Linked DNA regions of Homo sapiens. The protein of the gene in region 1 purifies or fractionates together with the protein of each later gene. This does not show direct contact. Each region holds a gene or a part of one and is shown on either strand. Other genes may lie near its edges.

Evidence for each region. Proteins that work in one complex are often made in the same cells at the same time.
Region 2: the proteins of FUCA2 (region 1) and CLN3 purify together in Homo sapiens (affinity purification with mass spectrometry; one large-scale study listed by BioGRID and IntAct). This does not show direct contact.

The regions. Positions count from the first base shown.
Region 1 is NC_000006.12:143,505,122-143,508,774, reverse strand, and holds part of FUCA2 (plasma alpha-L-fucosidase precursor), read left to right. Parts: intron 1-1,350; coding exon 1,351-1,538; exon of another isoform or gene 1,539-2,805; intron 2,806-3,317; exon of another isoform or gene 3,318-3,359; intron 3,360-3,653. UniProt on the Homo sapiens protein: Alpha-L-fucosidase is responsible for hydrolyzing the alpha-1,6-linked fucose joined to the reducing-end N-acetylglucosamine of the carbohydrate moieties of glycoproteins.
Region 2 is NC_000016.10:28,482,075-28,485,727, reverse strand, and holds part of CLN3 (battenin), read left to right. Parts: intron 1-1,609; coding exon 1,610-1,722; intron 1,723-3,055; coding exon 3,056-3,102; intron 3,103-3,182; coding exon 3,183-3,251; intron 3,252-3,345; coding exon 3,346-3,401; intron 3,402-3,529; coding exon 3,530-3,623; intron 3,624-3,653.

The DNA.
Region 1 (3,653 bases):
TGAAATCAAAGACACGGGCTCTTTCTTTCATCCTCAGCCTGGGGACTTGTCCCTTCATGGTCACAGGATGGCAGCCAGGCACCATAACTTCACACAACCCTGCCCAAAGGCAGGAAGGCCAGTGTCTCTTTTCATTAGGAGGGAAACCATTTCCACAGTCCCCAAAGTTGGCTTTCCCTCAAGTTCCCTTGGCCAGCATGGATCTCACATCCCTGTCGCAGCTGTAGTGGAAGCTGGGAAATTACGTAAATACGACTTTTGGGCAGGCAAACAGCATGCCTGCCGCATAGTATGCCCTTCAATTATTTCTTCTTAGCAGAGTCTCCTGATCGTCTTGGGAAATATAGTGCTGATTATGGATTTGCTTATCCTGTAGAAATACTCATATGAAAGGAATGGTGATAGAAAAAGCAGGAGGTGGGTCAAAAATGGGGGTTGCATCTATTTCATGAGGATAGTTACTGCTGTGTTTATCTAAAATGTGTAGATGTGCTTTTCCTCATGAAGTCTTGCTTACGCAGTTTAGGGTCAATATACCATTGCTTAGAATGAATGCGTATAGCAAGTAATTGTTGAAGGTTGAGTCCATTTATTAAAATAACAGCATCTTTTTAATTTTACTTTTGCCTCCCTTTCTGTCCTGTGCCTCCAAAGTGTTCTCTACTACTGAATATAATAGATGCATATTATGTTTTAGGCATGTAGTCTTCCTTTTAGAAGCCCTAATCACTTATGTTACAAGGGACAATGTGTAAAGACATATACTACATGTTGTGATTTAAAAGTGAAGAATTAAAAGAGAATGGGGCTGGACACGGTGACTCATGCCTGTAATCCTAACACTTCGGGAGACTGAAGCAGGAAGATCGCTTGAGCCCAGGAGTTTAAGACCAGCCTGGGCAACATATGGAAACCACATCTCTACAAAGAAAAAAAAAATAGCCAGGTGTGGTGGCACGTGCCTGTGGTCCTAGCTACTCAGGAGGCTAAGGCGAGAGGATTGCTTGAGCACAGGAGGTCAAGGTTGCAGTGAACCATGATTCCATTACTGCATTCCAACCTGAGTGACAGAGTGAGACCCTGTCTTAAAAAAAAGAGAGAATGGGTAGCTGAGTTGCCTAGAATGCTCTAGTTTATGAGCTGAGTGGATATCACAGGGGGATAGGTGGAAAATGAGAGGGGGTTTAGTTTGCATAAGCTATCTTTAAAGCCAAGTCAAACTAATGGGGAAGTGAGAAAGAGAATCTGGGTCCTATCTGTGTGAGGGGTAAATGGTAAGGGGAGCTGGAGCAGTTCTTTTAAATATGTGTGTATGTGCTGTTTATGCACTCTTTCCTTTCCTCCCCTTAGGTGGTATTGGCAAAAGGAAAAGATACCGAAGTATGTGGAATTTATGAAAGATAATTACCCTCCTAGTTTCAAATATGAAGATTTTGGACCACTATTTACAGCAAAATTTTTTAATGCCAACCAGTGGGCAGATATTTTTCAGGCCTCTGGTGCCAAATACATTGTCTTAACTTCCAAACATCATGAAGGTAAGTCAATCCAGCCTATGGAAATTGCTGACAATGGTTAAGAAATGAAAAGTTGTTCTTTTGGAAGAAAAAACTAAAGCAAGGTCTAATTTTCTCTTCGGAGCAACCATAAGTGGTGACTGGCACTTGCTTATGACTTAGGGACTGCACATTCAACCCAAATTGAGAGATGTTAGGAATACAGAAAGGATCATACCCGCCACGTAACAGAGGAAAGATGGTCACGTTTTGTCACATGTATTTTGAACAATATTTCCAAGATTTACTTAAAGCTGTTTGTTGAAGGGAGTGTGGGTTGCAAGTCAAAGTTCATCTTGGAATTGCACTCTTTCCTTCCCCTTCTCTGTAATGCATCCTGTGAATGCATCATGGGGATTATACTGCTATAGTCTTGCATCATTACGACACACCTGGCTGCACTTTTAGCCAACTCTTAGCTGGCCAAATGGTGCAAATAGTGGATGAACTGATAGTGATGAAAGTGATGAAAGTGACCCAGATCACCTGGAGGGAAAAGGATTGTGGAACTGTAATGGTTTCCAGAAAAATCAGAGGTGGTAGAAGAATATCTAAACCCCCACACATTTAAAATCCATTCTATTTTAATAGAATGGATTCCACCCATTACCACTCCAGTATTTGTAAGGCCAGGGAAGCATTAACAAATTGTTTTTGTTCCAACGGCTTGTTCATTCATTAGTTTCTTTTGCATGATCATCTTTGCCTTGGTATAAAAAAATTTGCACTGGATGTGGTCGCTCATGTCTGTAATCCCAAAATTTTGGGAGGCCGAGGAAGGAGGATCATTTGAGCCCAGGGGTTCAAGACCAGCCTGGGCAACATAGTGAGACCCTGTCTCTACAAAAACAAACAAACAAACAAAAACTAAAAAATTAGCGTAGTGGTATGTCTCTGTAGTCCCAGCTACTTGGGAGGCTTAGGTTGGAGGACTGCTTGAGGCTGCAGTGAGCGGAGATAGGCTTACTACACTCCAGTCTAGGTGGCGGAGGGAGATCCTGTCTCAAAAAAAAAAAAAAAAAAAAACGGGAAACTTTGCCTTATTGTTTTCTCCAGGGATGGGATGGGAATAGGAGAGGAGAACCAACACAAAAAATCTGGAATGATCATAGGATATTTTTCCCTTTGGCCACATTCTGGTAGCTTCATGATTTTCTCCTGTAGATATTTATCCTGCTGAGATGAATGTCTATCAAGTGTATTTGCTTGAGAACATGCTGATTTCCTGATGTCTAGGAACTTTCCCAAGCTGTATGGCACAAAACATTACATAGTGAGTTTATTTAATAAAAATTGTTAATCAAACTGTGAGGAGAGATGATGTAGCCCACATGTATACATTTTCTGGGACCCATGTTGTCAGATGTTTTCATTGCTCATGGAAAATGCATACTAAGCTCAGGAAGGAACGTCGCAGTGTAAGCTTATGGTGGTGATATTCAAATGAAGACTCAAGTGGTTTTAGTACTGTCTGACATTAGGGCCTGTCAAGTTGAGTAACTTTGAGTATGACTTTAGATATCAACACTGCTCTGAAGCTTACCACAGAAATGATAGGAACAAGAGTGAGCTGTTTTAAAAAGCTTATTAAAATGAATCTAAGGCTAGGTGCAGTGGCTCACATCTATAATTCCAACACTTTGGGAGGCCAAGGAAGGAGGATTGCTTGAGGCCAGGAGTTTGAGACTGGCCTAGGCAGCAAAGTGAGACCCTGTCTCTGAAAAAATAGACAAAATTAGCTGGGCGTGGTGGAGTACACACCTGTAGTCCTAGCTACTTGGTAGGCTGAGGTGGGAGCATCACTTGAGCCCAGGAGGTCGAGGATGCAGTGAGCGAAGTTCGCACCACTGAACTCCAGCCTGGGTGACAGAGCCAGAACCTGTCTCAAAAAAAAAAAAAAAAAAAAAAAAATCGAAAGTATGAGTCATTCTTAGACTTGTTCTAATTTACCAAGAGTAAAATGTTTCACCAAATGTACCTTATAAATGTCTATTCTCAAAGATTCTTTTAGATTTTAGTGGAATAGTAACAATGTATTTAAGTCTCTAGGCACTGATGAAATTTTTGAGGCTTTCATATTTATTATGTTTTAAGTAT
Region 2 (3,653 bases), on another chromosome or scaffold:
GGACTTTATTTGATTAGTTCCTTTTTTTTTTTTTTTTTTTTTTAATCAGTGTTGACCAGGTTGGCCTCGAATGTGTAGCCTTGCCTGCCTGAGTGCCAGGGCAACAGGCCTGAACCATGGCGACTCCCTTTTTTTTTTTTTTTTTTTTTTTTTTTTGAGACGGAGTCTCATGGTGTCACTCAGGCTGGAGTGCAGTGACTGGTGTGATCTCAGCTCACTGCAGCCTCGGCCTCCCGGGCTCTAGTGATTCTCCTGCCTCAGCCTCCCGAGTAGCTGGGACTACAGGCCCATGCCACCATGCCTGGCTAATTTTTTATATTTTTAGTAGAGACGGGGTTTCACTGTATTGGCCAGGCTGGTCTCAAACTCCTGACCTCAAGTGATCCACCTGCCTTGGCCTCCCATAATGCTAGGAATACAGGCGTGAGCCACCGCGCCCGGCCTGATTAGTTCTGTGTATTTTCATGCATATTACAAAACACTTTGGCCGGGCATGGTGGCTCACATCTGTAATCCCAGCACTTTGGGAGGCCGAGGCGGGCGCACCACGAGGTCAGGAGTTTGAGACCAGCCTGGCCAATATGGTGAAACCCCGTCTCTACTAAAAATACAAAAATTAGCCAGGCTTGGTGGCGCTTGCCTGTAGTCCCAGCTACTTGGGAGGCTGAGGAGAAGAATCGCTTGAACCCAGGAGGCAGAGGTTGCAGTGAGCCGTGATTGTGCCACTGCACTCCAGGCTGGGCAACAGAGCGAGACTCCGTCTAAAAAAAAAAAAAACACACACTTTGAACTAGCCAGACACACCTGGCCCTTCACAAGATTAGTGCTTAGGACAAGTCTAAGTAGAAAAAGTGAGTCCATTTAAAGAAAAATATTAAGTAAAAATATATATATACAGGAGGAATATGGATATGGCAAATAACATGAAGCCAGAACCTAAGTGACTAAAATCGAGGAAGTTCTGGCCTAGCACAGAGTGAACGTATAATTAATGGGAGCTAGAGCGACCATTAGAATAATAATGGCCAGAAAACAGAACTGACTCGCTAGGTATGAGCCAGCAGTCCGAACAAGGGCCTGCTGAGCACAGTGGCTCACAGCTGTAATCCCAGTGCTTTAGGAGGCTGAGGCTGGAGGACCACTAGAGGCTAGAAATTTGAGACCAGCCTGGGCAACATAGCGAGACTCCATTTATACAAAAAATGGAAAATATGAGGCGGGCTTGGTGGCACGTGCCTGTAGTCCCCGCTACTTGGGAGGCTGAGGCGGGAGGATTGCTTGAGCCTGGGAGGTCGCGGCTGCAGTGAGCTATGATTGCACCACTGCATTCCAGCCTGGATGCTGGAGAAAGACCCTGTCTCTGAAAAAAATCAAAACAAAATGAAGGCCCATGAATAGGAATAAGGAGATAAATTCAGGTCCAAAGAAAGAAGCCTTTGTCCACAATTGGAGCTCTCCCGCACAGCGTAGGAGCCTTAGAGGCAGTGAGCTACCCATCTTTGAAAGTGTTCAAAGGTAGAGGTGTTCCCTGGGAAAAGTGGCCTAGATGGTCCCTGGGGACCTTCCCAGCCAGTAGGGTTTTCTGACCCTGCCTTCATCCTACTCCTAGCTATTTCTTGTTGCTCACATCTCCTGAGGCCCAGGACCCTGGAGGGGAAGAAGAAGCAGAGAGCGCAGCCCGGCAGCCCCTCATAAGAACCGAGGCCCCGGAGTCGAAGCCAGGTAGGAGACACAGACCCTCAGAGAGGTCACTTTCTTTCTCTCTGGGTTTGGCCTTTTCCTCTCTGCAATAGGCAAAGTTAAGAGGGGAAAGAGAGTGAGTGTACTGGTTATGGGAAAAGCCTTTGTCTATTTGAGAAATACTTGTTGAGGACGAGCACAGTGGCTCACGCCTGTAATATCCCAGCACTTTGGGAGGCTGAGGCAGGAGGACCACTTGAGCTCAGAAGTCTGAGTCCAGCCTGGGCAACAGAGCAAGACCTTGTCGCAAAAAAAAAAAAAAAAAAAAAAAAAAGAAAAGAAAGGAAGGAAGGGAGGGAGAGAAGAAGGGATATTAATTGAGTACTTACCATGTGCCAGGCATTCCAATCACAAGTGCTGAGGCCCTGCGGTGGGGATAAGCTGGGATGTTCTAGAACCAGAGAATGGCCAGTGAGACTGGGCAGGGTGGGCCAATGGCCATCTGTGGAGCTGTACAAGAGACATTGGCCGGGCGTGGTGGTTCATACCTGTAATCCCAGCACTTTGGGAGGCTGAGGCAGATGGATCATTTGAGATCAAGAGTTTGAGACCAGTCTGGCCAACATGGTAAAACCCCGTCTCTACTAAAAATAAAAAAATTAGCCAGGTGTGGTGGTGCATGCCTGTAGTCCCAGCTACTTGGGAAGCTGAGGCACGAGAATCACTTGAACCCAGGAGGCAGAGGCTGCAGTGAGCTGAGATTGCACCACTGCACTGCAGCCTGGGCAACTGAGTGAGACTCTGTCTCAAAAAATAAAAAAAATTAAAAATCAAAGAGACGTGAAGAGGTCTCACCTGGTTAGCTTTTATTTTCATCATGATAAAGTATGTATATTACTTGAAGTTTACCATTTTATTATTTTTTATCTTACTTTATTTTTTTGAGGTGGAGTTTCGCTCTTGTTGCCCAGGCTGGAGTGCAATGGCGCAATCTCAGCTCACTACAACCTCTGCCTCCTGGGTTCAAGTGATTCTCCTGCCTCAGCCACCCGAGTAGCTGGGACTACAGACACCTGCCACCACACATGGCTAATTTTTGTATTTTTAGTAGAGATGGGGTTTCTCCATGTTGGCCAGGGTGGTCTTGAACTCCTGACCTCAGGTGATCCGCCCACCTCAGTCTCCCAAGGTGCTGGGATTACAAGCATGAGCCACTGCGCCCAGCCATTTTAACCATTTTTAAGTGTCCAATCCAGTGGCATGGAAGTGAGTTCCCACTGTTGCGTGGTCTGGTTAATTCTGTCATACCGGTGCCTCTTTGCCGAGTCTTCAGTGTGAAAACTTCATCTGCCCTTCTCTCTCTGTTCCCCTGCAGGCTCCAGCTCCAGCCTCTCCCTTCGGGAAAGGTGGACAGTGTTCAAGGTTCGGATGATGGCTGGGGTATGTCCCTGTGGGGCTTGCTCACCTCCAGGCCCCCCGCTTATATCTTCTGCCTTTTCCAGGGTCTGCTGTGGTACATTGTTCCCTTGGTCGTAGTTTACTTTGCCGAGTATTTCATTAACCAGGGACTTGTAAGTGAGGGGTGCTAGGAGGGGTGTGGAGGTGGCGATTGGGGCTGGGACCCACACAGCCCCGTCCATCTCCCCTGTCTGGTATTTGTTGCAGTTTGAACTCCTCTTTTTCTGGAACACTTCCCTGAGTCACGCTCAGCAATACCGCTGGTAAGAGGAGCGAGGGCAGTGGGCTGGGAGGGCGCCGTGGTGATGCAGCTGCCCTGCCCAGTAGGCACCGGGGGGAGCGGGATGGTCCCTGGAGGAGCCTCCTCTCCTCCCCCCAACCCTAACCTCAGGTACCAGATGCTGTACCAGGCTGGCGTCTTTGCCTCCCGCTCTTCTCTCCGCTGCTGTCGCATCCGTTTCACCTGGGCCCTGGCCCTGCTGCAGGTACCAAACCCCTGCCCCTCACTTCACTCC